Homo sapiens: one gene and its partners. The protein of the gene in region 5 purifies or fractionates together with the protein of the main gene of each other region. This does not show direct contact. Each region holds a gene or a part of one and is shown on either strand. Other genes may lie near its edges. The genes, in order: POLR3B, SMARCA4, RRP12, POLR3H, POLR3F, APPL2 and TRMT1L.

Evidence for each region.
Region 1: the proteins of POLR3F (region 5) and POLR3B fractionate together in Homo sapiens (co-fractionation; 4 studies listed by BioGRID and IntAct, with this or other methods). This does not show direct contact.
Region 2: the proteins of POLR3F (region 5) and SMARCA4 fractionate together in Homo sapiens (co-fractionation; one large-scale study listed by BioGRID). This does not show direct contact.
Region 3: the proteins of POLR3F (region 5) and RRP12 fractionate together in Homo sapiens (co-fractionation; one large-scale study listed by BioGRID). This does not show direct contact.
Region 4: the proteins of POLR3F (region 5) and POLR3H purify together in Homo sapiens (affinity purification with mass spectrometry; 4 studies listed by BioGRID and IntAct, with this or other methods). This does not show direct contact.
Region 6: the proteins of POLR3F (region 5) and APPL2 purify together in Homo sapiens (affinity purification with mass spectrometry; one large-scale study listed by BioGRID and IntAct). This does not show direct contact.
Region 7: the proteins of POLR3F (region 5) and TRMT1L purify together in Homo sapiens (affinity purification with mass spectrometry; one large-scale study listed by BioGRID and IntAct). This does not show direct contact.

The regions. Positions count from the first base shown.
Region 1 is NC_000012.12:106,434,118-106,438,126, forward strand, and holds part of POLR3B (DNA-directed RNA polymerase III subunit RPC2), read left to right. Parts: intron 1-2,939; coding exon 2,940-3,014; intron 3,015-3,563; coding exon 3,564-3,662; intron 3,663-4,009. UniProt on the Homo sapiens protein: Catalytic core component of RNA polymerase III (Pol III), a DNA-dependent RNA polymerase which synthesizes small non-coding RNAs using the four ribonucleoside triphosphates as substrates.
Region 2 is NC_000019.10:11,054,679-11,058,687, forward strand, and holds part of SMARCA4 (SWI/SNF-related matrix-associated actin-dependent regulator of chromatin subfamily A member 4), read left to right. Parts: intron 1-3,576; coding exon 3,577-3,685; intron 3,686-4,009. UniProt on the Homo sapiens protein: ATPase involved in transcriptional activation and repression of select genes by chromatin remodeling (alteration of DNA-nucleosome topology).
Region 3 is NC_000010.11:97,363,111-97,367,119, reverse strand, and holds part of RRP12 (RRP12-like protein), read left to right. Parts: coding exon 1-79; intron 80-210; coding exon 211-378; intron 379-498; coding exon 499-674; intron 675-886; coding exon 887-1,012; intron 1,013-3,216; coding exon 3,217-3,266; intron 3,267-4,009.
Region 4 is NC_000022.11:41,527,323-41,531,331, reverse strand, and holds part of POLR3H (DNA-directed RNA polymerase III subunit RPC8), read left to right. Parts: intron 1-443; coding exon 444-645; intron 646-1,995; coding exon 1,996-2,049; 3' UTR 2,050-2,718; coding exon of another isoform or gene 2,719-2,853; 3' UTR 2,854-3,309; coding exon of another isoform or gene 3,310-3,431; 3' UTR 3,432-3,911; coding exon of another isoform or gene 3,912-4,009. Other genes in the region: ACO2 (aconitate hydratase, mitochondrial precursor), read right to left, coding at 2,719-2,853, 3,310-3,431, 3,912-4,009.
Region 5 is NC_000020.11:18,477,167-18,481,175, forward strand, and holds part of POLR3F (DNA-directed RNA polymerase III subunit RPC6), read left to right. Parts: intron 1-2,871; coding exon 2,872-3,015; intron 3,016-3,235; coding exon 3,236-3,343; intron 3,344-4,009. UniProt on the Homo sapiens protein: DNA-dependent RNA polymerase catalyzes the transcription of DNA into RNA using the four ribonucleoside triphosphates as substrates.
Region 6 is NC_000012.12:105,184,090-105,188,098, reverse strand, and holds part of APPL2 (DCC-interacting protein 13-beta), read left to right. Parts: intron 1-4,009. UniProt on the Homo sapiens protein: Multifunctional adapter protein that binds to various membrane receptors, nuclear factors and signaling proteins to regulate many processes, such as cell proliferation, immune response, endosomal trafficking and cell metabolism.
Region 7 is NC_000001.11:185,122,085-185,126,093, forward strand, and holds part of TRMT1L (tRNA (guanine(27)-N(2))-dimethyltransferase), read right to left. Parts: intron 3,027-4,009; coding exon 2,860-3,026; intron 1,836-2,859; coding exon 1,773-1,835; intron 1-1,772. UniProt on the Homo sapiens protein: Specifically dimethylates a single guanine residue at position 27 of tRNA(Tyr) using S-adenosyl-L-methionine as donor of the methyl groups. Dimethylation at position 27 of tRNA(Tyr) is required for efficient translation of tyrosine codons.

The DNA of each region.
Region 1 (4,009 bases), on a different chromosome or scaffold from region 5:
ATCAACTGTGGTAGTGGTTAATGCTAGCCACCATTTGTCATTTTAATGGAGACACTATATGTGTAAGGCTTTAACTTCTTCATTCAACCCTATGAGGTTGGATTATTCTTGTCATTTAAGAAATGAGGAAACTGAGGTTCAGTGAGGCTAAGTAACTTACTGAAAGCTAAAGAGTGGTGGAATCTGTTTTTTATTTGAAAGTCCTTAGGATTCGTTTGACGCATGATTTTGCCCACTATAGTCTGTTGCTACAAACTGAGCTTTAAAGGAGGAGTAGGATTGTGTTAACTTGGAGGTAGGTGGGGAGGAGAAAGGCTGAAAAAAGGCAAGAATGAAAACATGGAGGCATGAAGAAATAAAATAACACTAGATCCAATGGAAAAGTAGGTTCCTTTTATTCATTCAGTAAGTATTTATTAAGGGCCTATTGTGCACAGGTACTATCTAGGAGCCGGAGGTACAGAGACGAATGTGACATGGTGTCTGGTTTGAGGGGCTATGCAGAGACATCAGCTGAGGACATTGCCTTGTGTCACAAGCCTTTTCTAGCATTACCGTAGTTATTCTGTGTATACCTCGGGTAGTGTTGAAGCACAAGGCAGTGAGCCAGCAGTAGCTGGAAGTCTGTCAGAGCTGGGAGAGTGACTGCATGCTTTCTTTCCTCCAGCATCCTTTCCTCCTTCATATGACACTACCTCATTTTCTTTTGAGGACTGCCTGTCCCCATTGGCAGGCTTCTTGGGATGGTCAGTCCAGCACCCTCTTCTCTTCAGCCAGGGGTTGGGCATATGACCCAAATGAGGTCAGTCAGACCCCCTCATCAGAGAATTTGAATCCCAGGTAAAATAAATCAAGGGAGGGAGGTGGTTGGACTTGATTCATTCTCCCAGTGCTACATGCAAGAGACTGCCTGTTAAACCTCATTTTCTGGATTCTTGGAACTGCTCTCGTTCCTTTTCTTTCTGAGGCTGAGCATTTCACCTTTTTCTTTGATTCTTATCCTTCCATTAAATTATTTTTTTTTTTTTGAGACAGAGTCTCACTTTGTCACCCAGGCTGCAGTGCAGTGGTACGATCTTGAGTCACTGCAGCCTCCGCCTCCCAGGTTCAAGCGATTCTCATGTCTCAGCTCCCCACCCCCGTCCCTGACCCAGTAGCTGGGATTACAGGCACACACCACTGCCCCTGGCTAATTTTTTGTATTATTAGTAGTGATGGGGTTTCACTGTGTTGGCCAGGCTGGTCTCGAACTCCTGGCCTCAAGTGATCCACCCACCTCAGCCTCCCAAAGTGCTGGGATTACAGGTGTGAGCCATCGCACCCAGCACCTGTAAATTCTTAATGCTTCCAGTAAACTTCATTTTTGCTTAAATTAGCCAGAATTGGTTTCTCTTCTTTGCAACCGAAGAATGGTTAGCTGATGATATACCTGTGTTTGAATCCTAACTTCCCACTTACTGAGTTGTGTGACTCTGAGTATACTACTTCAGTCTCTCAGCCTTGGTTTCCTTGGCTGTAAAATGGAAACAATAATGCCTGCCTAAGATTGTCCTGAGAACTAGTTGATAGAAGGTGTGGTAAGTGCTCAGTAGGGTGCCAGGCACACATTAGGTGCTTATTTATAACTTAATAGCATGGTCCAGTTAAGGGCAGGAATAACAGTGACATTTTCTAGGTTACTCTTTTTTAGGATTTCATTACATCCAACATAATATATATTCAAAAATAAAACTCTTTTATAGAAGCAACTTTATAATGGCATAACAGATCTAGCAGGAAAAAATAGTAGAATGCGTTGAGTAACGTAAGGATAACTGAGGCAGCTAAATGTGATCCCCTCCCTCTCCTCCGCCGGTTTCTGTCTTCTCATCTGAGGCTTAACCTGAATCCACTGCAGCGCTCAAATGAGGCATTAGTAGGCTCTGCTTCCCTACCAAGAAGGAGCCAGAATTTCGAGGTACTGTGGATTTCCATGAAAAGCTCACCCAGTTCATTTTTCAACAACTTGTGTTCCCCTTTTGTAATTGTGCAGCTCCTCTTCTTAACTGTTGAAAAGTGCTCATTAGTCCTCAAATAGTTATTTGGACTTTAGGGTAGAGCGCACAAGTGTCTGGTGGTTACTTGCTCCTCTCTGTAAGAGCTGCTTATCCAAATAGCAACAGCCCTTGACGTTTCAGTGCCGCATGCCATCCTTTGTGTCCGGGTTTCCTCATGGTGGCAAAGCCCTCCGAGGCAAGTCCCCACTGACAGTTACAGGTTAATCTGCCAGAATGCCTTCTCCACCTTCCACCCATTACGTCACTGAAAACCACAAAGTAAGAAAGCTTCATTCTCTGCCAACTTTTAGCCACTCTCTTTGGTAATGTGTAGCTTTAAGTATCTTGCTAACCTAGCTCAGTGATGTTTAGACTAAATCAAACTACTCTAAACATCTGGATATTCATCAGAACCTCACAACACAACGCCGTTATTACCCTAGGTGACAGTGCTTCTTTGCCTGTTAACTCCATGAGTAGTATGCAAAATTTTCCAATGTGAAATCGGGAAGTTTTTAGATTGATACATTACACCGTTTTTTAAAATATGGCATTAAAGGTTTTGTTTCCTTTTCAGACTTTGAGTATCATTTTTGTGTTGCCTTTTCATTCAAAACCAAATGTTTCCTAAGATACTTGCAGGAAGCACTGTGTGTGTGCATGAATATGTCCACACATACTCACATGTACACATGGGCTTGGGTATGTATGTGTGTGTATGTGAGAGAGAGCATAGTCCCCTACACCATGCTCATCCATACAAAAATTACCTGGTGTCCTCAGCAATCCAGGAATAGGTTTGTTTGTATTTACATCTTCCCTCATCTCACTTTGGTAAACTAACTTGCCTGTGTAATTTTTCCCTGGAACTATTATTAATTTGGTTTGCTGTTTCCATTCTAGACCCTACATAATTGTCAAGAAACAGAAGCCAGCAGTCACAAATAAACATATGGAAGAGCTGGCCCAAGGGTACAGGTAAGTAGCCAAAAGTAAAACTTACCAATCTCCTTAATACCCACATACATGATTTAAGAAAAGTGTATTTTCATTTTAGTGTTTTAATTTCTTTCCACCAAATTACCAGCCTGTTAAAAACCTATTTTGCTCCATGTGAACTTGCTTGGACATTGTAAAATATTCATCAATTTAGATCATGAGGGTTACCTAGTCTTGATGTCAGTTAGTACACAAGTAAGTGTTTCTGGTAAGAAAAGGACTTACATCATGTGTCAGTGTAGACACTGTGGGTCTCATTATGAGGTTTCTAAGGTCAGAATTTTTTTTTTAAGAAGTGGGGACTAGGTTCACAAGAGTTACAGACAGACACTTTGCTGTTTTTATTTCAGCAGTTTGTGGTTACTGTGTGAGCTAAGAATAACATGTTTCAGGTATCCCAATGTAATGATATTCTCTGGGAGAGAAAGGTGCTTTGGGCCTAAACGAAAGCCAGTATCTCCTGTTATTATATAAAATACTGCAGAAAAATGCTTTTTAATGATGTCTCTTTCACCAATATTTTCCCAGGAATTTTGAAGATTTCTTACATGAGAGTCTGGTTGAATATTTAGATGTGAATGAAGAAAATGATTGTAACATTGCACTGTACGAACACACAATTAATAAGTAAGTAGGATCCATAGCAACCATAATTAAAACGTGTTCTGACTATAGAAACTACCTTCTCTTTTACTGTCATCTTCAGTCCTTCTATCTTTTACTCTTTTGACAGGAACTGTTAGAAATATACAATCTTCTTTTTTTTGTTTGAACATGCAGGTTTGTTACATAGGTAAACGTGGGCCATGGTGGTTTGCTGTACCTATCAACCCATCACCTAGGTATTAAGCCCAGCATGCATTAGCTATTTATCTTGATGCTCTTCCTCCCCCAACCCCCTAACAGTCCCCCTGGTGTGTGTTGTTCCCCTCCCTGTGTCCATGTGTTCTCATTGTTCAGCTTCCACCTGTGAG
Region 2 (4,009 bases), on a different chromosome or scaffold from region 5:
ACTTGGAGGCTGAGGCAGGAGAATCGCTTGAACCCTGGAGGCAGAGGTTGCAGTGAGCCGAGATCACGCCACTGCATGATGTGTGCATTGGTGTTAAGTCAGCTATTAAGAGGTGTGGGCTGGGTGTGTGTGGGGGTCAGAGGAGGTGATGTTTGCCCTGAGATGAGGTCAGAGCCCACATTCCCATGGGGGTGGACTCCCCTTTGTAGGCCTTGACACGAGCATGGGAGCGGAGCTAGGGGCACTGACATCAAAGGTGGTGGCGCCTATCCAGAGGACTCCGGGTTTCATTCCAAGTGCGGGGAGGCTGCAGCATGTCCCTCTTTAATATAGAGGTGAGGGAGGCTCTCAGCACCCTGCCTGTTGCAGGGAAGCCTGAGGACAGGACCTCCAGGGAACTCTGCACCAGAGCGGAATCCTCAGACCGGCAACTGGGTGGTCTTGATTCATCCAGAACGTAATTCTCCTAGAGGTCTGGGAAGGGGTGCTCTTGTACCTTGGTTTTGTGTTTTGTTTTTGTTTGTTTTTTGAGACAGAGTCTCACTCTGTCGCCCAGGCTAGAATGCAGTGGTGCGATCTCGGCTCACTGCAACCTCTGCCACCCAGGTTCAGGTGATTCTCCTGCCTCAGCCTCCCGAGTAGCTGGGATTGCAGGTGCCTGTCACCACGCCTGGCTCATTTTTGTATTTTTAGTAGAGACGGGGTATCACTATCTTGGCCAGGCTGGTCTTGAACTCCGGACTTCGTGATCCACCCACCTCAGCCTCCCAAAGTTCTGGGGTTACAGGCGTGAGCCACTGCGCCCAGCCGCACCTTGTTTTTTTTTTGCTGCCTGTAGCTGTTTCTCATTAGCCTGATGGAGGTGGCTGTTGGGGTGGTGGGGTGCTTATTATAAAGCCTTCTGCTGTCACAGCCCTGGGGTCTCACTTCCTGGGCTCTCTGCATAGGGAGCCGCCCTCCAGGGCAAGGGCCACAGTGTGCAGTAAGCCCCCCATGGCCACAGGGCAGGGCGTTTCAAGCCAAGAGTCTGCACTGTTTGCTGGCCACTAAGGGCATTGAATGGATCACAAAACTGGCTTTTTTTTCCCCCAGTCAAATAGAAATGGGGTTTTGCCATGTTGTCCAGGCTGGTCTCAAACTCCTGGGCTCAAGCAATCCTCCCACGTTGGCCTCCCAAAGTGCTGGGATTACAGGCACGAGCCACCATATCTTTAAAAATGTAATAGAATGGAAAATGGCAAAGCGCGCTGCTTTTCATAGAAGAGACTATCGCATTGGGGTTCTTCTGTTGCCCCTGCCTGTGCTGCACGTCCTGCTTCACAGTGTAAAGCGCAACTCTTGCTGTGCCTTATTGTAACAGGTATAGGGTGGATGCTGCCATCATGAAGAGAGAGGAGAGCTCTTTGCTTATAAAATTCCGTAGAGTGGAGAACAGGATGTGCCGGCTTAGGAGAGGGAAGAGGTACAGGCCCGCTCTGCCCGAGCTGCAGATGGGACACACATTTCCCGACTCAGAGGGGAGTCGTGTCTTTCTCCAGGGTCACCGAGCAGCAAGCGCATCCACTGTGTGTTCTTATTTTCTGAGCCTGTGGACTGGGTTTACCAACAGTTGCCTGTGGCAGAGCCGGCCACCAGCCCGCTCATAGGAAAAAGGAAGCCTGTGCCTCCAGGGAGGGCCCACGATGGGAATGCAGTCTGAGAAGGGTATGTGCTCCCATGCTGGACCGGCTGGTCCCACACCCAGGACCAAAAACACCTCCTGGCAGGAGATGGGGAGATGTACTTCATGAACACACGTTGGGGAAGGACACTCCTGGAAGGCAGAGGCTCAAGGCGGGCTGTGTCCAGGCCAGGAGATTCACTCCCACCTCAATTTCCTCCTCAGCACGGCTGGCCTGGCACTGGTGCCTGCTTCAGAGTTTAGTGTGTGTAAAGTGTGGCTGGCCCAGCAAGCAGGGGATGATGGCGGTTGTCAAGGCCAGGGGAGGTGCAGGGACAGGATTCTGGCTCCCGTGTGTAACGTCTGCATCTCAGGAGGCTCTCATGTTAGAAGCTGGGTCAGGGGCTTCGTGATGCACACAAACACCAAACAAGCAGGAGGCCTTCCGGGATCCTGCTCACGAGCAGCTTCCTGGAGGCAAGCCTGGCCCGTCTGCCCCTTGGTGACATCAGGACCCCAGCAACAGAACCAGGGAAGCCACCATGTTGTCGCTGCCATTTTCCAGCGTGGTAAACAGAAGCAAGACAAGGCGCACTCAGGACACCCAAACAGACGGCGGGGCCAGCCAGTGGCATGGGCGGGCTGCCCTGCCCTCTGGAATTTTCTGGGAAAGAACATAAGGAAAGAAGCGGTGCTGATGAGGCAGCTGGAGTTATCAGGACCCAAGCTCAGCTCCTCCTTCCCATCAGGCCCCGTTGGCCACTTTTAGGCTTCGTCCGCCTGGTGGCTCCCTGCTTGGGGCCGTTCCCTGGCTAGGCCCTTCCTCTGGGCCAAAGCAGAGAGGAGAGCGCGTTTGCCATGCGTTCTCATTTTCCCAGCCTGCGGGCTGGGTTCTGTCAGAGCAAGGTCAGCTCTCAGAGCTTCTGTCCCCACCCACCCTGTCCTGCTGAGCCAGGCTCAGGTATGGGTAAGAGCTGGGAGCGCTGTGCACGAGGCCTGGCAGCATCTCATCACTGCCGCTGTACCGAGTGCACAAGGGCGCTTCCTGTGGTGTTCAGGGGGTTAGATCAGTCCCCAGTGAGGACAGAGCAGAGATCCAGATGCATCCCAGGCCGGCTGCAGTGGCTTCTGCCTCTAATCCCAGCACTTCGGGAGGCCAAGGCAGGCAGATCACGAGGTCAAGAGATCGAGACCATCCTGACCAACATGGTGAAACCCTGTCTCTACTAAAAATACAAAAATTAGCCGGGTGTGGTGGCTGGCATCTGTAATCCCAGCTACTCGGGAGGCTGAGGCAGGAGAATTGCTTGAGCCCAGGAGGCAGAGGTTGCAGTGAGCCGAGATCATTCCATTGCGCTCCAGTCTGGCGACAGAACAAGACTCTGTCTCAAAAAAAACAAAAAACAAAAAAATGTATCACAGGCCTGTTTGTGTGGTTGTCTCTGGGAAATGTTCCAGAAGCTACAAGAAAGCACATGTGCAGGCCAGGCATGGTGGCTCACACCTGTAATCCCAGCACTTTGGGATGCTGAGGCGGGCTGATCACCTGAGGTCGGGAGTTTGAGACCAGTCTGACCAACATGGAGAAACCCTGTCTCTACTAAAAATACAAAATTAGCCTGGCATGGTGGTGCACGACTGTAAAAAATCCCAGTGACTCCAAAGGCTGAGGCAGGAGAATCTCCTGAACCTGGGAGGTGGAGGTTGCAGTGAGCCGAGATCGCACCATTGCACTCCAGCCTGGGCAGCAAGAGCGAAACTCCGTCTCAAAAAAAAAAAAAGCGCATGTGCAAGAAATAGCTCCTGAGCTGAGTTGGAATTTCTCATCCTTAAACAATGTGGGAACCTGCTGAGGTGGGGTGGGGGCTCCCGGGTGGGCGGACTCGGGGGTGATAGCCGCCGGTTCTGCCTTGCAGCAGCAGTGGACGTCAGCTCAGCGAGGTCTTCATCCAGCTGCCCTCGCGAAAGGAGCTGCCCGAGTACTACGAGCTCATCCGCAAGCCCGTGGACTTCAAGAAGATAAAGGTAACCCTGACGTTGTACCTGCGCCCCGCATGTGCCCGGAGGGGAGTCTGACCCAGGGGCACCCCCATCTGAGAGCTGTGGTGTGTGGGCAGAATGACCAGAAACCACCTAGGCGGTGCCTTGGGCTACCTGGTTAGGGACCTGGTCGTGGGCTTTTGGGGTTCCTTGTAAGGGTTGGGGGTGTCCTGAGGGATGTCAGTGGGCAGTCGGTGTTGGGTGTTCCTTCAAGGTCCCACTCACTTAGTGCTGGGCCTCAGTCATGCAGTTCCCATGCCTAGTGAGCCAGGTTACCGAGGCTGGCGCTTCGGCCACATCCTCATAGGC
Region 3 (4,009 bases), on a different chromosome or scaffold from region 5:
GGAAGCTTTCAGATGACATGCGGCGGCACTTCCGCATGAAGCTTCGGAACCTGTTCACCAAGTTCATCCGCAAGTTTGGGTCTGTGCACTGAGCAGGGGCGGGGGTAGGGCAAGCGAGGGGCCGAGGATTTCCAGTCCTACCAGGGACACTACATCTGGGTCGTGCTGTCTGGCCAGTGCCTCTCACCAGCCCTTCCTTGCCACCTCCAGATTTGAGCTGGTGAAAAGGCTGTTGCCCGAGGAGTACCACAGAGTCCTGGTCAACATCCGGAAAGCTGAGGCCCGGGCCAAGAGGCACCGAGCCCTGAGCCAGGCTGCCGTGGAGGAGGAAGAAGAGGAGGAGGAGGAGGAGGAGCCCGCCCAGGGCAAAGGTGACAGGTGAGACCATGTTAGGGCCATGGGACCCGGTGTCCCCCCAACCCAAGGGCCTGCCCAGGCAATACCCGCTGACCCCCGCCTCTCCTGGGAGCACTCTGACTGGGGGCTTTTTGTCCTTAGCATTGAGGAGATTTTAGCTGACTCAGAGGACGAGGAGGACAATGAGGAGGAGGAAAGAAGCCGAGGCAAGGAGCAGCGGAAGCTGGCACGACAGAGGAGCCGGGCATGGCTGAAAGAGGGCGGTGGGGACGAGCCCCTCAACTTCCTGGATCCCAAGGTGGCCCAACGAGTCCTGGGTAAGCACAGGGCTGGCCAGTGCACTCAGAAAACAGACTTGCCATGGTGCCAGGTTCTCAGGTGGTGGGTAGGGGGTGGCATCCATGGCAGGCCCATGGACAGGGCTGAGAGGCGCCCGTTTGGGATCCCTGAGCCGGGCTTGTTGGTCATGATGAGGGTGAGTAGCATGGGACTGGCCTTCCACCTCCTCATGCCAAACTCTACACCCCAGCCACGCAGCCAGGGCCAGGCCGGGGCAGGAAGAAGGACCACGGCTTCAAGGTGAGCGCCGATGGCCGGCTGATCATAAGGGAGGAGGCAGACGGCAACAAGATGGAGGAAGAGGAAGGTGCCAAAGGTGGGCCCAACGCGCTTGTCCATTCATTCACCGTGTTCACTTATTCCTTCGGTGATCACTTGCTGAGGAAGCGTGGCTAAAAACAGACCAGAGAAACTCTTCTCTCGGCAGCTTCCTCAAACTTTTTGAGTTTCTCAAACTTTTTTTGAGAAACATTAAGAAATCTTTTTATGTTGTAACCGAGCCATTTATACAATACATATTTAACTTAAAGGAAACTATCGGAAATGGTACTTCCCCTTACTGTGTGTGATACGCTGTTAGTCTCTTCTGTTTTTCTCCTCCTCCTCCCCCTCCTCTTCCTTTCTCCTTTTCTTCCTTCCTCTTTTTTTTTTTTTTTTAATGCAAACTTGGCTAAGGCCCTGAAGATGATTTAGAGGCAGAAAGAGCCAGAGGCTGAAACCCTCCCAACTTCCCAATCCCAATGTCTCACATTGCCCGGGAGTCCCTCCGGTGTGGCATCTCGGAGCTCTCTTTAGTCTTTCCTGGCCCCTCTCCACATATCCAGCCATTAGCTAAGAAACACTTAGGTCTTCGCCAGGCGTGGTGGCTCACGCCTGTAATCCTAGCACTTTGGGAGGCCAAGGCGCGCAGATCAGGAGGTCAGGAGATCAAGACCATTCTGGCTAACACGGTTAAAACCCATCTCTACTGAAAACACAAAAAATTAGCTGGGCGTGGTCGCGGGCGCCTGTAGTCCCAGCTACTCGGGAGGCTGAGGCAGGAGAATGGCGTGGACCCAGGAGGCAGAGCTTGCAGTGAGCCAAGATTGTGCCACTGCTCTCCAGCCTGGGTGACAGAGCGAAACTCTGTCTCAAAAAAAAAAAAAAAAAAACACCTAGGTCTTCAAGAACACACCTGTCATCCCTTTGTTTGGTTCCCAGTGCTGCGAGCTCTGGGCCCTTGTCTCACTGCACCTCCTAACTGGAGCCTCACTGCTCCACATGCACCCAACTCACCAGCCACACGACTGCAGCCGCTCGGTCAGCCTCTCCTTAGCTCCGTTTCCTTGCTTCAGAGTGGATATCATACAATCCTAATACCCACTTTTCCGGGTTGGAATGAAGATGAATCGGTGTAATGGGGACAGCGTATGTACTTGGTGTACATGTGCCTGTTATATTTCCGTGTCTAGTGTCTTCTCTGCTCCTCTCTCGCCCCTGTATACTTTCCCATCTCCTGTCCCCCTTGGTGCCCAGGCATTCCTGAGGCTGTCAGGACCCCTCCCCTCTCTCTCTGCCTTTCCAAACCCCCCTGCTCTTCAGGATTCAGCTCAAAGCTCCTTTTGTAGCCCTTCCTGGGCACCTCAGCCTTTAGGCCTGATTCCCCCAGAACTCCTGCCAAGCCCAGAGGAAACCCAGTCTTCAGCCCTTGGTCATGTGCTTTCTTTGGAGATAGAGTCTCGCTCTGTCACTCAGGCTGGAGTGCAGTGGCTCGATCTCGACTCACTGCAGTCTCCATGTCCTGAGTTTATGTGATTCTCCTGCCTCAGTCTCCCAAGTATCGGGGACTACAGGCGTGCGCCACCATGCCCAGCTAATTTTTGTATTTTTAGTAGTGATGGGGTTTTGCCATGTTGCAGACTGGTCTTGAACTCCTGACCTCAGGTGATCCTCCCTCCTCGGCCTCCCAGAGTGCTGGGATTACAGGTGTGAGCCACCACACATGGCCGGTCACGTGCTCTCTATCGTCTTTTGGTTGTTGATTGACTTTGCCTGAGTTTCTCTTCCCTCCAATTGGTCAGTTTCATACTTTATATTCCCACATGGAGCCCAGCACATACTGCATGGGGCAGAGATTTCAAACAGGAGAATGAAGCCTTCCTGGCACAGTGGGGGTGTGTATGGGGCTGCAGGAGCGCCTGACTCCCCCGGAAACCTGGGGCTTTCTTCAAATCTCAAACAGATGAAGGGTGGGTGAGTGGGAAAAGAAAAGTTTCAAACGAAGCCATATTCACCTCAAAAGTAGGATCACCGCTTCTTTGAGGGGCCGTTATCCCTAGGGCCTAGGGTGGGAAGGAGAAAGGGGCAGTGCTCAGGGGTCTCATCTCTTCTAGCAGAAGGATGATATTGGTCTGAGGAAGGCAATTTTCTGGGGCCGGAGTTGGTGGCCCCGCAGCCTGGTGAGCCAGGAGGGGGCAGAAGGAAAGGGTAGGTTTTGAGGAGCTCCCACAGCGCTCATGGGCCTCTCTTTTTTGGCTCCAGGCGAAGATGAAGAGATGGCTGACCCAATGGAAGATGTGATCATCAGGAATGTGAGTAGTTCCTGCAGATGGGGGGCTAGGGCTTCAGACCTAAGCCTGGGCTCCACAGCTTCTCACCCCCACCACACGTAGACATTGGAACTGCCCTGTTTCTGGAATGCTCGGTGCATCCTCACAGGTGTGCATAGCAGGCGGTCCAGAAGGTTGTGGGTGCCAGGCAGGACAGGGTGATGGTTGTCTAGTTAAAGGAGAAAGAAGGCAGAGACCCTTGTCTCTCTAGCGAGGGCATGTGCTATGCAGGGGCAAGGGCAGCAGCTTCCCTGTGTGCTCCTGCATGGGGTGGGGGCATCCACCGTAGGGGAGCATGGCTGTGTGCCCAGCACTGTGCTGAGGGCCCCACATAGCCTCACGAAGATAGGGACTCCGTTGTCCCAGTGACCAGAGGAGCGTACAGAGGTAAGTAGCCTGCCCAGGGTCACAGGACTCAGTCTGTGCAAACCAGGAATTTGAACCCTGGTTTTCCAGTCTCCTAAGCCCAGGAATTCAACCTCTTTGCCACCATTACCCCTGTTGACCTGGCAGTGCTGCCTGCCAGGATGGAAACAGCCTCTCAGCTGCCCCACCTGAACCAACAAGGGTGAAGTGGGCCCAACCCATCACCCAACACCTGTCAGTCTCAAGCTCAGTGGAACATTTCCATTCTGGAGCAGTTTCTTCCCTCTCTGCCCTTCCAGACTATGCCCCAGCCCATCCAGCCTTCCTGGGCACCACCCGTAGGTGACAGAGCCTACATC
Region 4 (4,009 bases), on a different chromosome or scaffold from region 5:
AAGTGGGCAGGTGACCTCCCATCCCACTATGTCCTCTTGAAAACGGCAAGTCCTTGGGTGCCCATCAGCCTGTCACAAGGCTTTGATGAAAAGGGTGTGTGGGGCTCCGTGGCAGGAGGCCCAGGTTGCTCTTGTCTTGAGAGGTGGGACTCGGACCCTGTCTCGTCCCCTCCTGCTCTGGTGCTCTGAGATCCATGTGCGTCTGGCCGTGGTGCCTGGCTGGGGACCCCATGTTCCCCTTCCTGGGTCCTGGCCTCCAAGAGCGCTTGTTCCTCTCTGTTTGGCCCAGGCCTTGTGCATGGGGCTGGGACCTGCTTTTCCTGTGACTTCCCAGCCACAGTGATCTCACCCTGAGATTGGTTTTTCCTGCGGGGTCGGGGAGTGGGTGCTGAGGGAAGCCCCTCCCACTATCTGGTTGCTGCCTTGACCCTGGACCCCCTCAGCGACGAAGCGGAGCAGGTGTGGGTGTGGGAGTACGAGACGGAGGAAGGAGCACACGACCTCTACATGGACACCGGCGAGGAGATCCGCTTCCGGGTGGTGGACGAGAGCTTTGTTGACACGTCCCCCACAGGGCCCAGCTCAGCAGATGCCACCACTTCCAGTGAGGAGCTGCCAAAGAAGGAGGCTCCGTACACGCTTGTGGTGAGTGGCTCTGATGGTGCTGAAGCCCCCATGAGGCGGGAGAGCCGGAGTGCAGGGCTGGAAGCTGTGTCCTGGGGCTTCTGCTCTGGGATCTCCCCCAGCAGGTCAGGGATCCTGTTTGGGGGGTCTTGGCTGGTCACTTCTCCCTGGAGAGCCTGAGTTTCTGTAGGCCAGGGCTGTGAGGCAGTAAAGGTACATGGCTGCTGGTGGGGTGGGCGAGTCAGCTTGCAAAGGGGACAGAGCTCACGGTGGACAAGACCACTGATAAAGCGGCTTTGAGGCCAAGTGCAGTGGCTCACATCTATAATCCCAGCACTTTGGGAGGCCAAAGTGGGAGGATCGTGTGAGGCCAGGAGTTTGAGACCAGCCTGGCTAAAAAAGTGAGAAGTTGTCTCTATAAAAAACAATTAGCAGGGCATGGTGGCGTGCCCTGTGGTCCCAGCTACTTGGGAGGCTGAGATGGGAGTATCCCTTAAGCCCAGGAGTTCAAGGTTGTGCCACTGCATTACAGCTTGGGCAACACAATGAAATGCTATCTTTAAAAAATTGGGGGGTAGGGAGGGGTTTGAGGGAGAAAGAAATCAAGGAAGGGGCTTGGGAGAGATCAAAGCCCTGAGATTAAGGGTAGGGCTGCTGGGGCACAGTGGCTCACGCCTGTAATCCCAGCACTTTGGGAGGCCAAGGTGGGCGGATCACGAGGTCAGGAGATTGAGACCATCCTGGCTAACACGGTGAAACCCCATCTCTACTAAAAATACAAAAAATTAGCCGGGTGTGGTGGCGGGCGCCTGTAGTCCCAGCTACTTGGGAGGCTGAGGCAGGAGAATGGTGTGAACCCGGGAGGTGGAGGTTGCAGTGAGCCAAGATCGTGCCACTCCACTCCAGCCCGGGTGACAGTGCGAGACTGTCTCAAAAAAAAAAAACAACAAAAAAAAGGTAGGGCTCCCTGTAGGAGCAGCATTGCAGCAGTGAAATAAAAGGGAGGGCTCCGGGGAAGAGTGGCTTTCAAGGCTGCTCCCTGTTGGATGCGTCTGGAGCATGGGCCTTGTGTTTGCTCAGCCTTCCTGCCACGATTAGAACCTAGGTGGCCCTGGAGGGCAGGCCTAAGGGTGAGGAAGGGTCCCTGACCCTATCAGGGCCTGGAGTCCCTGGAGAAGGGTCTGCGCCCTGCGTGCTGCGTGCCCGTTGGGAGCACTGCTGTGGCTCCCACATCTCTCCAGAGCCTCTTGGCTGCCGTGTGCCCCGCCTCTTCTTTGCCTGTGCTGGGCCTGCTGGGCTCCCTTCACCTCCTGTCCAGGTTGGTTCAAGCCAGCATGTCAGTGAAATGTGCGTGTTCTTTATCCCTGGCAGGGATCCATCAGTGAGCCAGGCCTGGGCCTTCTCTCCTGGTGGACCAGCAACTAGCCCTGGGGCTGGACAGTGGACCCTACCAGCCTGCGGGAAGGTGGTATGGCCGGCTGTGAAGACAACAGCAGCTGAGGCCGATGCTAAGGAGATAGTGTCTCGAGCTGGACAGTGAGGCAAGGCCAGGAGTGCCCACCAGCTTGCCCCGCTCCTCCACCATCTAGGCCCTGCTCCTCCTTCACTGCAGTGATGGATCCATCTGTGGCTGTGGCTGTTGGGCCTCCACTGACCTTGACTGAAAAGACCCTTCCTGGACCCTGGACTTGACAACAAACGGCACAGACACCAATCACTCACAGAACAGTCACTGGTTTTGGATTCTTGTTTTCCTTGCAAGAACAAAAGGTTCTCTAGAATCCTTCAGCCACCAATGAAATGATCAGGCAGGAGAAAAACTTTAGATGGGAGTCTTGTCATCAAAAATAAATACAGTTGCATGGAGCTGCTTAAGATCTGAACCAAACTCAAAATAGGAAGACGGGGGCTAAAAAGTTATTTTAAGAACCCCCCCACCACAACCACAGTCACTCCGTGGGCTAAGCGGGGAGCAGGAAGCATGTCTGGTCACACCATCTTGGAATAGGAAGCCATGGCTGGACGGATCGGATCCACTGATGGCACACGTGGAGCTGAACTTGACGCCAGCGGCGGGGCGGGGAGGCACTGCCCTCACTGTTGCAGTTCCTTCATTCTGTTGAGGGCACTGCCAGCGCGGAACCACTCAATCTGCGTCTCGTTGAAGGTGTGGTTCAGGAGGATGGTCTCCTGGGTCCCGTTGGGGTGCTTGATGATGCACTTCAGGGGCTGCAAGGAGAAGGTGGGTGTGGGTGGAAGTGGTGGGTACTGTGTGCCCTTGGCCCCGCAGGGGGGTCAGGGAGACAGGGCACTGCCTGGGGACCTAAGAGGTCAGCAGGCAAACCAAATCCTAGGCCAGTCTGTGCCTGATGGCCCAGGTCAGACCCAGGTGGCACCTACAGGGGATTCCTGGGGCCCAGAGGGTCCTGCAGTGGGTGGGCTGTCCCCTGAGTGCCAGGTCCTGGTGAGTAAAGGGAGGTTGGGGAGGTGTGAGGGCCCCGGGTTGACTCCAACCCCCAACTCTGAGAAGCCACTTTGCTTTCTCTGTGGGGCCACCTGGAGAACTGGGGGCCTTTCCAGCTGGAATGAAGCCTCCTGGGAGAAGCTACCCTGGGGCCAGTGCAGGAGGGGAAACAAGGTGGCTGCCCCTCACCCCACCACCTCAGGGGGACCCGGGCCCCTAACCTTGCCAGGGGTGAAGTCCTTCAGGCCCTGAATGGTCAGCTTGTCCACAGGGTGAATCTTGTTGTAGTCAGCCGGGTCAGCGAAGGTCAGAGGCAGCAGGCCCTGTTTCTTCAGGTTGGTCTCTGGAAAGCAGGCGGCATTCGGTCATCGGGGGCCTGACTAGCCTGGAGAGCTTCATTTTCTGAACCCATCTGGGGCTCTGGGAGATGCCCCTAATCCTGCTGCCTGGGACAATGCCCGGGCAGTGACTATGGGGCCCTGGTCTGCTCCCTTTCACTAGGGGTGCCCCTAGCAAGTGTGCGCTGGTGCTGAGGTCTGCGAGGCCTTCCTGCTGCACATTCATGATCAGAAAGAACCCCCTGGCACATGTCCTAGATCTCAGCGGCTCAGATCTACAAGCCTGGAAGCAGGGCCTGCGGGAAGCCGGGAAGCTGAGCGTCGGATGTGCACTGTGTGAGCCTAAGAAGGGGCAAGAGGCTGACGGGCCTGTGGGCTGCAGTGGACACAGCCTAGAACCAGGCCCAACTCAGCCACGGGCAGGGAGAGTGACCTTGATCACTAGGGATGGGATGAGGATGGCCTGGGTACAGACTCCAGCTCACCGTGGATCCTGGCAAAGCTCTTGGTGATGATGGCCCGGCCCCCAAGGTGGCGAGGCTCCAGAGCTGCATGCTCCCGGCTCGAGCCCTCGCCGTAGTTC
Region 5 (4,009 bases):
GATGGCAGATAAGCATATGAAAAGATGCTCTACATTATTTTTCATTAGAGAACTGCAAATTAAAATAAAATTTAGTATAGTGAGATACCACTACACACCTATTAGAATAGCTAAAATCTAAAAATTGGTAATACCATATGCTGACAAGATACAGACCAAGATGAACACTCATACATTGCTAAGAATGCAAAATTTTCAGTCCTTTTGTTAAAAAACTGGGCAGTTTTTACAAAACTAAACAGAGTCTTACCACATTGTCCAAAGGTCAAGCTCTTAAGTATTTACCCAACTGATTTGAAAACTCATGTCCACATAACTACATGAATATTTATAGCAGCTTTATTCGTAATCAGCAGCTTTATTCATAATCAAAAACTGGAAGCAACCAAGGTATCCTTCAATAGGTGAATGGATAGACAAACCAGAATAGTATTCAGTTATAAAAAGAAATAAGCTATCATGAAAAGATATGAGTAAATCTTAAATGCATATTGCTAAGTAAAAGAAGCCAGTCCGAAAAGGCTACATACTGTATGATTACAACTATATGACATACTGGAAAAGGCAAAACTAGACAGACTAAAAAGATCGGGGTGAGGGCAGGGATGGTAGGGAAAGTTGAATAGGTGAAGCATGAGAAATATTTCTAGGGTGGTGAAATTATTTTGTATGACAGAAGCATTAACCAAATTTGGAAGCCCACCCAAGCTTTGCTGTCCAAAGTTTTTATTAGGGTTTCATTATACAGGCATGATTGATTGAATCCTTGGTCATGTGAGTGAATTCAATCTCCAGCTCCTCTCTTCTCCCAAGAGATTGGACTGATGTCATGTGGCCCAAAGCCCCAACCCTCTAATCATGCGGTTGGTCTTTCCAGCATGGACAACTCCTATCCTGAAACTATTTAGAGTCCTATCAGGAGTCACCTTGTTAGCATAAACCCAGGTGTGATCTAAGGGATTCACCATGAATAACAAGGCCTATTGGGAAATTCCAAAGATGTAGAAGTTATTTCCTAGGAAAAAGGGACAAAGTCTAGCCAAATTTTTTTCTTTTTTTTTTTTTTTGAGACATGGTCTGGCTCTGTCACCCAGACTGGAGTGCAGTGGCACAATCACAGCTCACTGCAGCATCAACCTCCTGGGCTCAAGCCATCCTCCCACCACAGCCTTCCAAGTAGCTGGGACTATAGGCACGTGCCACCATGCTCAGCTAATTTTTGTATTTTTGTAGAGACAGGGTTTTACTATGTTACCCAGGCCTGTCTTGAACTCCTAGACTTAAAGATCTGCCCACCTCAGCCTCCCAAAGTGCTGGGATTACAGGCATAAGCCACCATGCCTGGCCCAAATTCTTCATGTTTACAACCCAGTGAAATTTGGGTTCCTCAGTGTTGGGGTGAGTAGTTACAGACAAACAAGGAAAGTTAGAATGATCCATGTAGTAATGGATTAGACTTGAAAACATCAGTATGGACTCTTGTGTAATTTAATATAAATAATATAGATGGTTATATTTAGAAATATTGAGTATAGCTATGTATATATACAAGGGTTAATATGCGCACATAAATCTCGTGCTGCCAACTGAGAAGGCCTAGAAGTGATGACATCCCGATGGCAATGAACACATCTAGTGCCCAAGTCGTGGTTTCTATCATGCAATAAAATGAACATGTAGAAAATGCTCCTGACGGCTGGGCAGGGTGGTTCATGCCTGTAATCCCAGCACTTTGGGAGGCCAAGGAGGGTGGATCACCTGAGGTCAGGAATTAGAGACCAGCTTGGCCAACATGGTGAAACCCCATCTCTACTGAAAATACAAAAAAATTAGCTGGGCATAGTGACGGGCGCCTGTAATCCCAGCTACTCGGGAGGCTGAGACAGGAGAATCGCTTGAACCTGGGAGGTGGAGGTTGCAGTAAGCTGAGATCGTGTGCCATTGCACTCCAGCCTGGCAACAAGAGCGAAACTCCGTTTCAAAAAAAAAAAGAAAAGAAAATGCTCTTGACATCTTGTAGTGCTAGAAAGTAAGAAAGTGCTACAATAGCTGGACACGGGGGCTCATGCCTGTAATCCCAGCACTTTGGGAGGCTGAGGCGGGAGGATCACGAGGTCAAGAGATCGAGACCATCCTGGCCAACATGGTGACACCCCCGTCTCTGCTAAAAATACAAAAATTAGCTGGGCATGGTGGCACATGCCTGTAGCCCCAGCTACTCGGGAGGCTGAGGCAGGAGAATCACTTGAACCCAAGAGGCAGAGGTTGCAGTGAACCAAGATTGCACCAGTGCACGCCAGCCTGGGCGACAGTGCAAGACCCTGTCTCCAAAAGAAAAAAAAAAGTGCTAAAATACACACACACACGATGGGAGCATAGCAAAGGGATACAGGAACCAAGTGAAAAGCTTCCAATGCCCAAAGCATTCCAAAGCTTCCAGTGTGGGAATAACAATGAAGTATCTGAATGTAAATCAAAGTATAAAATAAATACTCATGAGTCCATAGTGATAGAAATACGGTGTTTGAGAAACTGTCACAACTAAAAGAAGCCTGAGAGAGATGACTAAATGTAGTATGATGTCCTGGATGGAATCCTGGAGCAGAAAAGGAACATTAGGACTAATGAAATCTGAATAAAGTATGGCATTTAGTTAGTAATGATTTATCAATATTAGTTCATTAATTGTGACAAGTGTACCACACTAATCCAAGATGTTAAAAATAGGGGAAACAGCATGATGTATATAGGAGCTCTGTGTACTATCTTTGCAATAATTTTGTACATCTTAAACTGTTCCAAAATATAGGTGTTTTTGTTTTTGGAAATTGTTATCTTATAAACACATGAACTGTGCATGTTCTTTCCTAGGCCTCAAAAAAGAAGGTGTATATGCTCTATAACCTGCAGCCAGACCGGTCTGTGACTGGTGGAGCCTGGTACAGTGACCAGGATTTTGAATCTGAATTTGTAGAGGTGCTTAACCAACAGTGTTTTAAATTCCTACAGTCCAAGGTGAGGTATGATTGAGGAAACATCACTGCAAACCCTCTTGTAAAAAGTTTTTCACAAAGGATTTTAATCTATTTATCATATTTTATAGGAATTAAAAACCTGAAATTGGGAATTTTTACTTAACTAAATATGTTCTGTTGTTGGTTTGACTCAGTATAAAGTGTATTCAGAAAACACACCAATATTCTTATTTACATTTCTTATGTTTCAATCCTTATAGGCAGAAACAGCACGAGAAAGCAAACAGAACCCAATGATACAAAGAAATAGTTCATTTGCCTCATCACATGAAGTGTGGAAATATATCTGCGAATTGGGAATCAGTAAGGTCAGAACTGAATTTCATCTTATTTTTTAAAACTTATTCTTTGTCACATACAATGTATTCCAAACATGTATTTGACCCACATTGTTTTTTTTTTTTGAGATGATAGCTACGAACATTCTGCAGAATCCACTTTGGGAAAATACTGTCCTGTATCTTAGGCAAAGGCAGTCACTGCCATTGGGCATTGTCTGAACTGATACTCAGCTTGGGACACTGATGCTTTTTTTATTTTTTTGGAGGTAGGGTCTCATTTTGTTGCCCAGGCTGGTTTTGAACTTCTGGACTCAAGTGATCCTCCTGCGTTGGCCTCCCAAAGTGCCACTGTACCCTAGCCTTTTGAAATTCTTTTTTTAAGGACACTGATGCTTTTCACAGTGAAGAAATCAAAGTGGCCATTTTGGACATGTCACTTTAATTTCCTGGGCCTCAGATTTCTCATAAAAACTAGGAACTTGGACTATTTGATGTCTAAAGTGCCTTTCTGCTCAAGCATTTTATAAATCTCCAATAAATTCCTGCTAAAGAAATGTTATTTTTTATAAGATTTCTCGATTTTACTTAGGAAGTAAAGATACCAGAAAGTGTCAAACTCAGCATGAGCTTAGAGTTCTGTCCCTGGCACCTCAGTGGTTTGTGCTAACTTGGCCTATTGTTCCTCCTCTTTGT
Region 6 (4,009 bases), on a different chromosome or scaffold from region 5:
TGGTATCTTCAAAAATCCAGTGGTGAGTGAATACTGTTGTTCACAAAGATGCCATCACACTAGACTTATTCTCTATATTATAGCTCAGAGCTTGAAAATGGAAGTTTTTTGGTTTTGCTTTTTTTTTTTCATTTCTGAGAGTACTATTTATAAAAAATAATGGAAAAAAACTTAAAAATCTGCCTAAATAACTTGGCCATCACAGAGAGAGCAGGCCATATTAACTACATGATTTAGTGTTTCAGGTAATACGATCTGGGTTTCAGATATGACCAAAATCCTGGTTATGAACATGGGTGTATGATACTGTAGCCACAGGTAGCATCTGCAGCAAAACTAGCCTGAACTGAGATGTGTTTTCAGTGTTAAATACATACCAAATTTCTAAGATTTAGGATGTAAAACATCTCACTAATTTTTTAGGTTAATCACATGTCTGGTAATATTTTAGATATACTGGATTAAGTAAAATTAATTTTATCTGTTACTTTTCACTTAATGTGGCCGCTGGAAAAACTTCGATGACATATAAGGCTTCCATTACATTTCTAAGGGACAGCACTGCTTTAGAGCCAGAATGTCTCAGTTTATTCCTGGCTTCGGCATTTCTTAGTTATGTGACCTTAAGCAAATTTTTGAGCCTCTGTACCTCAGTTTTTTCAGCTGTAAAATGAAAGTAACTATTCACACCCTCCACTGTTGTCATGAGGAATAAATGTCATGAGGAATAAATGTGCTAATATATGTAAGACATTTACAACTCACTGGCACATGAAAAGTGCTCAATGAACGTTAGCTTCAAAAAAGGTAACTAGGACTATAGCAAAAATTAGGATATAGCTTCTTCCATTCATTAAGCCCATCCTTTTCATTTATTATGAACCTTATCTGAGAATTAAGTTCTTATTAATAAAACCTGTTCTTTCACTATGTCCTGGACCTTTTACAGAAATGGGCTCATGGTTCTTATAATCCTATTGGTCCTGGAATAATTTCCACCAAAAAGATCAAAGGAAAATATATGTAAAAGTACTGTGAAAAACCACAGCACATCAAAGTGAAAAGAAAAACTACAGAATGGGAAAAAAGTATTCACAAATTCTATCTAATATGGATGTAGTACACAAAATATACAAAGAACTCTTATAAAACTCAACAGAAAGACAACCCAATTAAAAAATGGACCAAGGACTTGAAATAGACATTTTTCCAAAGATCATATACAAATGGCCAATGAGGACATGAAAAGATGCTATGTGTTACTAGGGAAATGCAAAACAAATCCACAATGAGATATGTCACTCCATATTAAGATGGCGTGCGCACGCATGCACACTGTCTCACAGATGTTTATATATATATGATATATATGATATATATATGATATGATATATGATATGATATATGATATATATATGATATATCATATATATGATATATATGATATCGATATCATATATATGATATATATGATATATATATGATATATATATTTAATGGAAAATAAGCGTTTAGCAAGGATGTGAAGAAACTGGAACCCATTGCTGGTGGGAATATAAAATGGTTCAGCTGCTGTGAAAAAATAGTTTGGCGGGCTCCTGGGTAGTTACCCAAAAGAATTAAATACAGGTGTTCAAACAAAAACTTATACGCAAATGTTCATAGCAGTCCTTTTCGTGATATCCAAATGGTGGAAATAATACAAATGCCCAACATCAAATGAATGGATCAACAAAATGTGGTAGAGTTGAGCATTCCAAATCTGGAAATCTCAAATGCTCCAAAATCTGAAACTTTTTGAGTGCCAACTTGATGCTCAAAAGAGATGCTCATTGGAGCATTTTGGATTTTGGGATGCTCATCCTGGTAAATATAATGCAAGTATTCTAAAATCTGAAAAAAAAGCTGAAATCCAAAACAATTTCAGATACAGGATACTCAACCTGTATATATATATGATGGAATACTATTTGGCCTTAAAAAGGAACAAAGGACTGATAAGTGCTACAACATGGATGAATGATGAAATCATTGTGCTAAGTGAAAGAAGCCAGGTACAAAAGGCAACATACTGTAGGGTTCTGTTTATATGAAATATCCAGAGTAGGCAAATCCATAGAGACAGAAGACAGACTAGAGATTGCCAGAGGGTGGGAGGAGGAATGAGTAACTGCTTAATGGGGATGGAGTTTCCTCTGGGATGATAAAAATGTCCTGGGACTAGATAGTGGTAATGGCTGCACAAAGTTATGAAGACACTTAACATCACTAATGATAAATCTGACGTTATGCATACGTCACCACAGTAAACATACCCCTGCAGTGGAATAGGTTCTGAGACCATTTAGAGGTCACACAGAAAATTAGAAGATTTAAAAAGAAAAATTGATTCCCAGACAAGGTGCCTGAATAGGAACAGCTCCAGTCTGCAGCTCCCAGTGAGACCAACACAGAAGGCAGGTGATTTCTGCATTTCCAACTGCGGTACCCAGCTTATCTCACTGGGACTGGTTAGACAGTGGGTACAGCCTATGGAGGGCAAGCAGAAGTAGCGTGCGGCATTGCATTACCCAGGAAGCACAAGGGGTCGGGGAACTCCCTCCCCTAGCCAAGGGAAGCCGTGAGTGAGGGACAGACCTATCCAGCCCAGATACTAGGCTTTTGCCACTGTCTTTGCAGCCCGCAGACCAGGAGATTCCATCGAGTGCCTACACCACCAGGGCCCTAAGTTTCAAGGACAAAACTGGGCGGCCATTTGGGCAGACACTGAGCTAGCTGCAGGAGAATTTTTTTCGCACCCCAGTGGCGTCTGAACCTCAGCGAGTCCCAACTGTTCACTCCCCTGGAAAGGGGGCTGAAGCCAGGGAGCCAAGTGGTCTTGCTCAGTGGATCCCATCACCACGGAGCCCAACACACTGAGATCCACTGGCTTGAAATTCTCACTGGCAGCACAGCAGTCTGAAGTTGACCAGGGATGCTCGAGCTTGGTGGGGGGGAGGGGCATCCGCCATTACTGAGGCTTGAGTAGGTGGTTTTCCCCTTAGAGTGTAAAGAAAGCCATCAGGAAGATCATACTGGGCTGAGCCTGCCGCAGCGCCATAAAACTGCTGTAGCCAGACTGCCTCTCTAGATTCCTCCTCTCTGGGCAGGGCATCTCTGAAAGAAAGGTAGCAGCCCCCAGTCAGGGGCTTACAGATCAAACTCCCATCTCCCTGGGACAGAGCACCTGGGGGAAGGGGTGGCTGTGGGCGCAGTTTCAGCAGACTTAAATGTTCCTGCCTGCCAGCTCTCAAGAGAGCAGCAGGTCTCCCAGCACAACGCTTGAGCTCTGCTAAGGGACAGACTGCCTCCTCAAGTGAGTCCCTGACTCTGGTGGTTCCTGACGGGGAGACACCTCCCAGCAGGAATCGACAGACACCTCATACAGGAGAGTTCCAGCTGGCATCTGGTGGGTGCCCTTCTGGGATGAAGCTTCCAGAGGAAGGAGCAGGCAGCAGTCTTTGCTATTCTGCAGCCTCCACTGGTGATACCCAGGCAAAGAGAGTCCGGAGTGTACCTTCAGCAAACTGCAGCAGACCTGCAGAAGAGGGGCCTGAAGGAAAACTAACAAACAGAAAGCTATAGCATCAACATCAACAAAAAGGATGACTACACAAAAACCCCACCCAAAGGTCACCAGCATCAAAGACCAAAGGTAGATAAATCCACAAAGATGAGGAAAAAGCAGCACAGAAAGGCTGAAAATTCCAAAAACCAGAATGCCTCTCCTCCTCCAAAGGATCACAACTCATTGCCAGCAAGGGAACAAAATTGGACGGAGAATGAGTTTGAAGAATTTACAGAAAGAGGCTTCAGAAGGTGAGTAATAACAAACTCCTCCAAGCTAAAGGAGCATGTTCTAACCCAATGCGAGGAAGCTAAGAATCTGGATAAAAGGTTATAGGAACTGCTAACTGGAATAACCAGTTTAGAGAAGAACATAAATAACCTGATGGAGATGAAAAACACA
Region 7 (4,009 bases), on a different chromosome or scaffold from region 5:
AGTGCCATCCATGTTGCTGCAAAGAGCATGATTTTGTTCTTTCTTATGGCTGCATAGTATTCCTTAGTACATATGTTCATTTTCTTTATCCAGTCCATTGATGATGGGCACCTAGGTTGATTCTGTCTTTGCTACTGTGAATAGCACTGCAATGAACATATAACGTATCTTTGACAGAATGAATTATTTTCCTTTGGGTTTGCATAGTACTATCATTTTAAGATTTTATGTGTTGACCAATGGTCTTAGAATAACCATATAATTTAAAAGTTATAGAAGAGCCCACAAAAATTAGTCTAATTTCCTTAATTTACTTATGAGAAAGGCTCACAGATTAAAAACAAATTTTTTTTTTGAGATGGAGTTTGGCTGTGTTGCCCAGGCTCACACAATCCTTACACTATCCTCCCACTTCAGCCTCCTGAGTAGCTGAGATTACAGGTGTGTGCTACTGTGCTCTTGGCTTTTGAAAATATTTTTAAAGCTTATTTATGTTTTACTTTATTCTAAAAAGGATTTAAGATAATTTTGCTGAATGGGAGGGACCTGGCTGAGTTTATATAACAACGCCTGCATAGGATAATACTCTTAAATCTAATTTTTTTTTTTTTTTTTTTTTTGAGACAGTCTCGATCTGTCACCCAGGCTGGAGTGCAGTGGTGCAATCTTGGCTAACTGCAGCCTCTGCCTCCTGGGTTCAGGCAATTCTCCCACCTCAGCCTCTCAAGTAGCTGGTATTACAGGCTTGCACTGACACACCTGGCTAATTTTTGTGTTTTTCGTAGAGACGGGGTTTCACCATGTTGGCCAGGCTGGTCTTGAACTCCTGACCTCAAGTGATCTACCCAACTTGGCCTCCCAAAATGCTGGGATTATAGGCATGAGCCACTATGCCCAGCAAATCTAATATTCTTTATAGTGTATCATAATGCTTCTTTGTCTTCCCTCCAACAGAGAAATTAGGTAGAATGTATCAATTTAAGTTATCAAATTAGTTGAAGATGCCAAATGAACATGGCTGTTGCAAAGAGTATGCAGTAGTTATTTAAACTATATACTATTAAAAGAAATTTAAGTTTCCTTGTCTTTGAAGGTCAACATTAAACTGCTGAGCAACTAATAAAAAATTACAGCTGATAACTAAAGGCCACTGCTCTTTCAAACTTAACACTCTACAGTCTTCTTTTCATCTGTACTCAAAAAACACATCTAGAATCTAAAGTTTTTTAAAAAGCAAAACAAAACCTTAGACATTAGGGCACTGATATTTTAAATCTTAACATCCTTTAATATGAATTTAGTGTCTACCACAGCTAGATTTAAAGTATGCACATATCCTAAATTATATGAAAGGCCATATAATAAATTCTTTTGGCTGAAGAATGAGGTCTTCTGGTTACTTAAATGGAATTGCTATAAATCATATATTAATGAGCAATTTTTAAAAGAATTAGAATAAAATTTTATCTTAACTATAAAATTATATATAACTTTATCATATATAATTTGATCTTATTTTATTCACATGGTTCAAGATCATACAGTTCGTTCAAAGGGATAACCATATATTACAGATGTGAACAAAGCATATGTTAACAGAAATTTCCTATGTGTGAATGCTGATAAACAAGTTTTACTACAGTTTTGTTGTCATATAATATGAAATGTATTTTTAAGTAGGCTACCATGGCAATCTCTTCTCTTCCTACCCTTTTGCTATATGCCTTTTTGACCTGATATGTACATATGTACACACATATATGCATACATACCTTGTGCAATGTAATTATCTGTTGTGGTGTCATCTGTAGTTTTAATAAATACACCATTTTCTTCTAAAAAATAAAGCAAATGGGAAAAGAAAATATTTTACAGAATGACATAAAGCAACAACTCAGTTTAAATAAAAGTTTATGAAATTCCATCCACACTATTTTCACGAATATGCAAGAGATTCTGTGGCCAAACTGAACTGCAAAAATTACATTTTTAACCCTCTATAATAGCAGTTTCTAATTATTTATGAGAACACTAGGATATTCAATAGGCTCATATCAATAGTCAGATACAACTACAAAATTGGCTGTTTGTACTAAACAGAAAAAACACATAGCTTTACTGAATGAGAAGTATAAATGTAGTTTCTGTGTCTTCATAGATATTACAATTTTTGGCCACAACACTCCTTGAATTACCAAAAGTTTCTTTTTCTAGAAAGCACATCTAGGGTAATAAAAATCACAAAGGACCTTTAGTGTTTTTTTTTTCTTTTTTTAAATCTAGTAAAATTAAAAACACACAAAAAAGGAGGTTATCTTTAAAAAAAAATTATCAGGGCATGGTGGTTCATGCCTGTAATCCCAGCCACTTTGGGAGGTCAAGGTGGGAGGACTGCTTGAGCCCAGGAGTTTGAAATCCGCCTGGACAATATGGTGAGACCCCATCTCTAAAAAATATTAGCCAGGTGTGGTGTGCATGCTTGTGGTCCCAGCTACACAGGAGGTTGAGGCTGAGGCAAGAGGACTGCCTGAGTCTAGGAGGTTGAGACTGCAGTGAGCCATGTTTGTGCCACTTGTATTCCAGCTTGGGTGAAAAAGTGAGACCCAGTATCCAAAAAAAAAACAACAAAACCAACAACACTATTCATCATTCACCTATTCATCTCAGGCCTGATTACAAGCCTGAATAAAACTATGTAATTAAAAAAAAACCAGAGGATCAGACTCATTAGAGAAGATTTACTAAAAACACACTATTTATAATTATATTGGTTTTATTATAACATCAAATACAATTGAAAAAGATACAGTATTTTTGGTAAGCAGTTTAAAGCTAGTAAGCTAGCGTTCAGTTAGTCACCTTGCTTGTTGACATTTGAAGATGCATGAATTGAAAACTGACTTTGAGGCGTACACTCTGATTCAAAGATTAATGTCTTTATTAGGGTCTGAATGTCATCCAAACCATGGTGAAGAGATTCAAATAGCATTCTTTTGAGGAATCCAGTATTGAAAAGGGAACTTGACCTGAAAAGAAAAGAATATACAGAGAACTGGGTTTGAAAAATGTTTCTCTTTAAAAAGAAAGTCTTCACAATTTAACTATAAGTAAGATATATAATTAATTATATGACAGAGTAATACTTAAATTCAAAAAGAATTTATGATTTAATTTAAAACTGTTTATTTTCTTTATTATTATTATTCTTTTTTGAGATAGAGTCCCGTCCTGTTGCCTAGGCTATAGTATTTTATTATTTTTTAATAGAGATAGGGTGTCATCATGTTGCCCAGGCTGATCTCAAACTACTGGGCTCAAGGGATCCTCCTACCTTGGCTTCCCAAAGTGCTGGAATTACAGGTGTGAGACACCACACTTCTGGCCTAAAACTTTATTTTCTATTTGCCACTCATTTTTATCATATCAGTTCTCTAAACTAGTAGCATTAGTCAAGGAAACTTAATTAAGTCAACAAGAATCTATTGAGGCTGGGAAGGGGAGAAGGGAGAGGGTGATGAAGAGGGGTAAAAGAATATAAATGTATTTATTACCACTGAAGTGTATACTTAAAAATGGTAAAGAAGGAAAATGTTATATGTGTATGTTACCTTAATAAAAAAATAATTTATTGAACTCTCATAAGGTATACAGTACTGTGGTACACAGAGGGTGTGTGGAGGATATACCAAAATATAATATACAATGTTGACCTTATAAAAGCCTATAAATCTAGACAGGAAAATAAAGCAATGAAGAGGTTTTCACAATGCACATTCTAGTCACTAATAGAAAATCTTAATTCTGATGAGTTTATGGTGGTAGGGTGGGGCAGGACAGGGCAGGGGAGCACATATATGAGAATTATATGTGGTGATGGTATGGTTCAGAAATAGTCTGGGGTGAATCTGATATGCTTCCCATTTAATTTAAGAATCACAGGTATAATGGACAAAATATGAAATTCTGAGTATGATAAACTGGATTCCAATCCTGGCTCCACCACTTACTA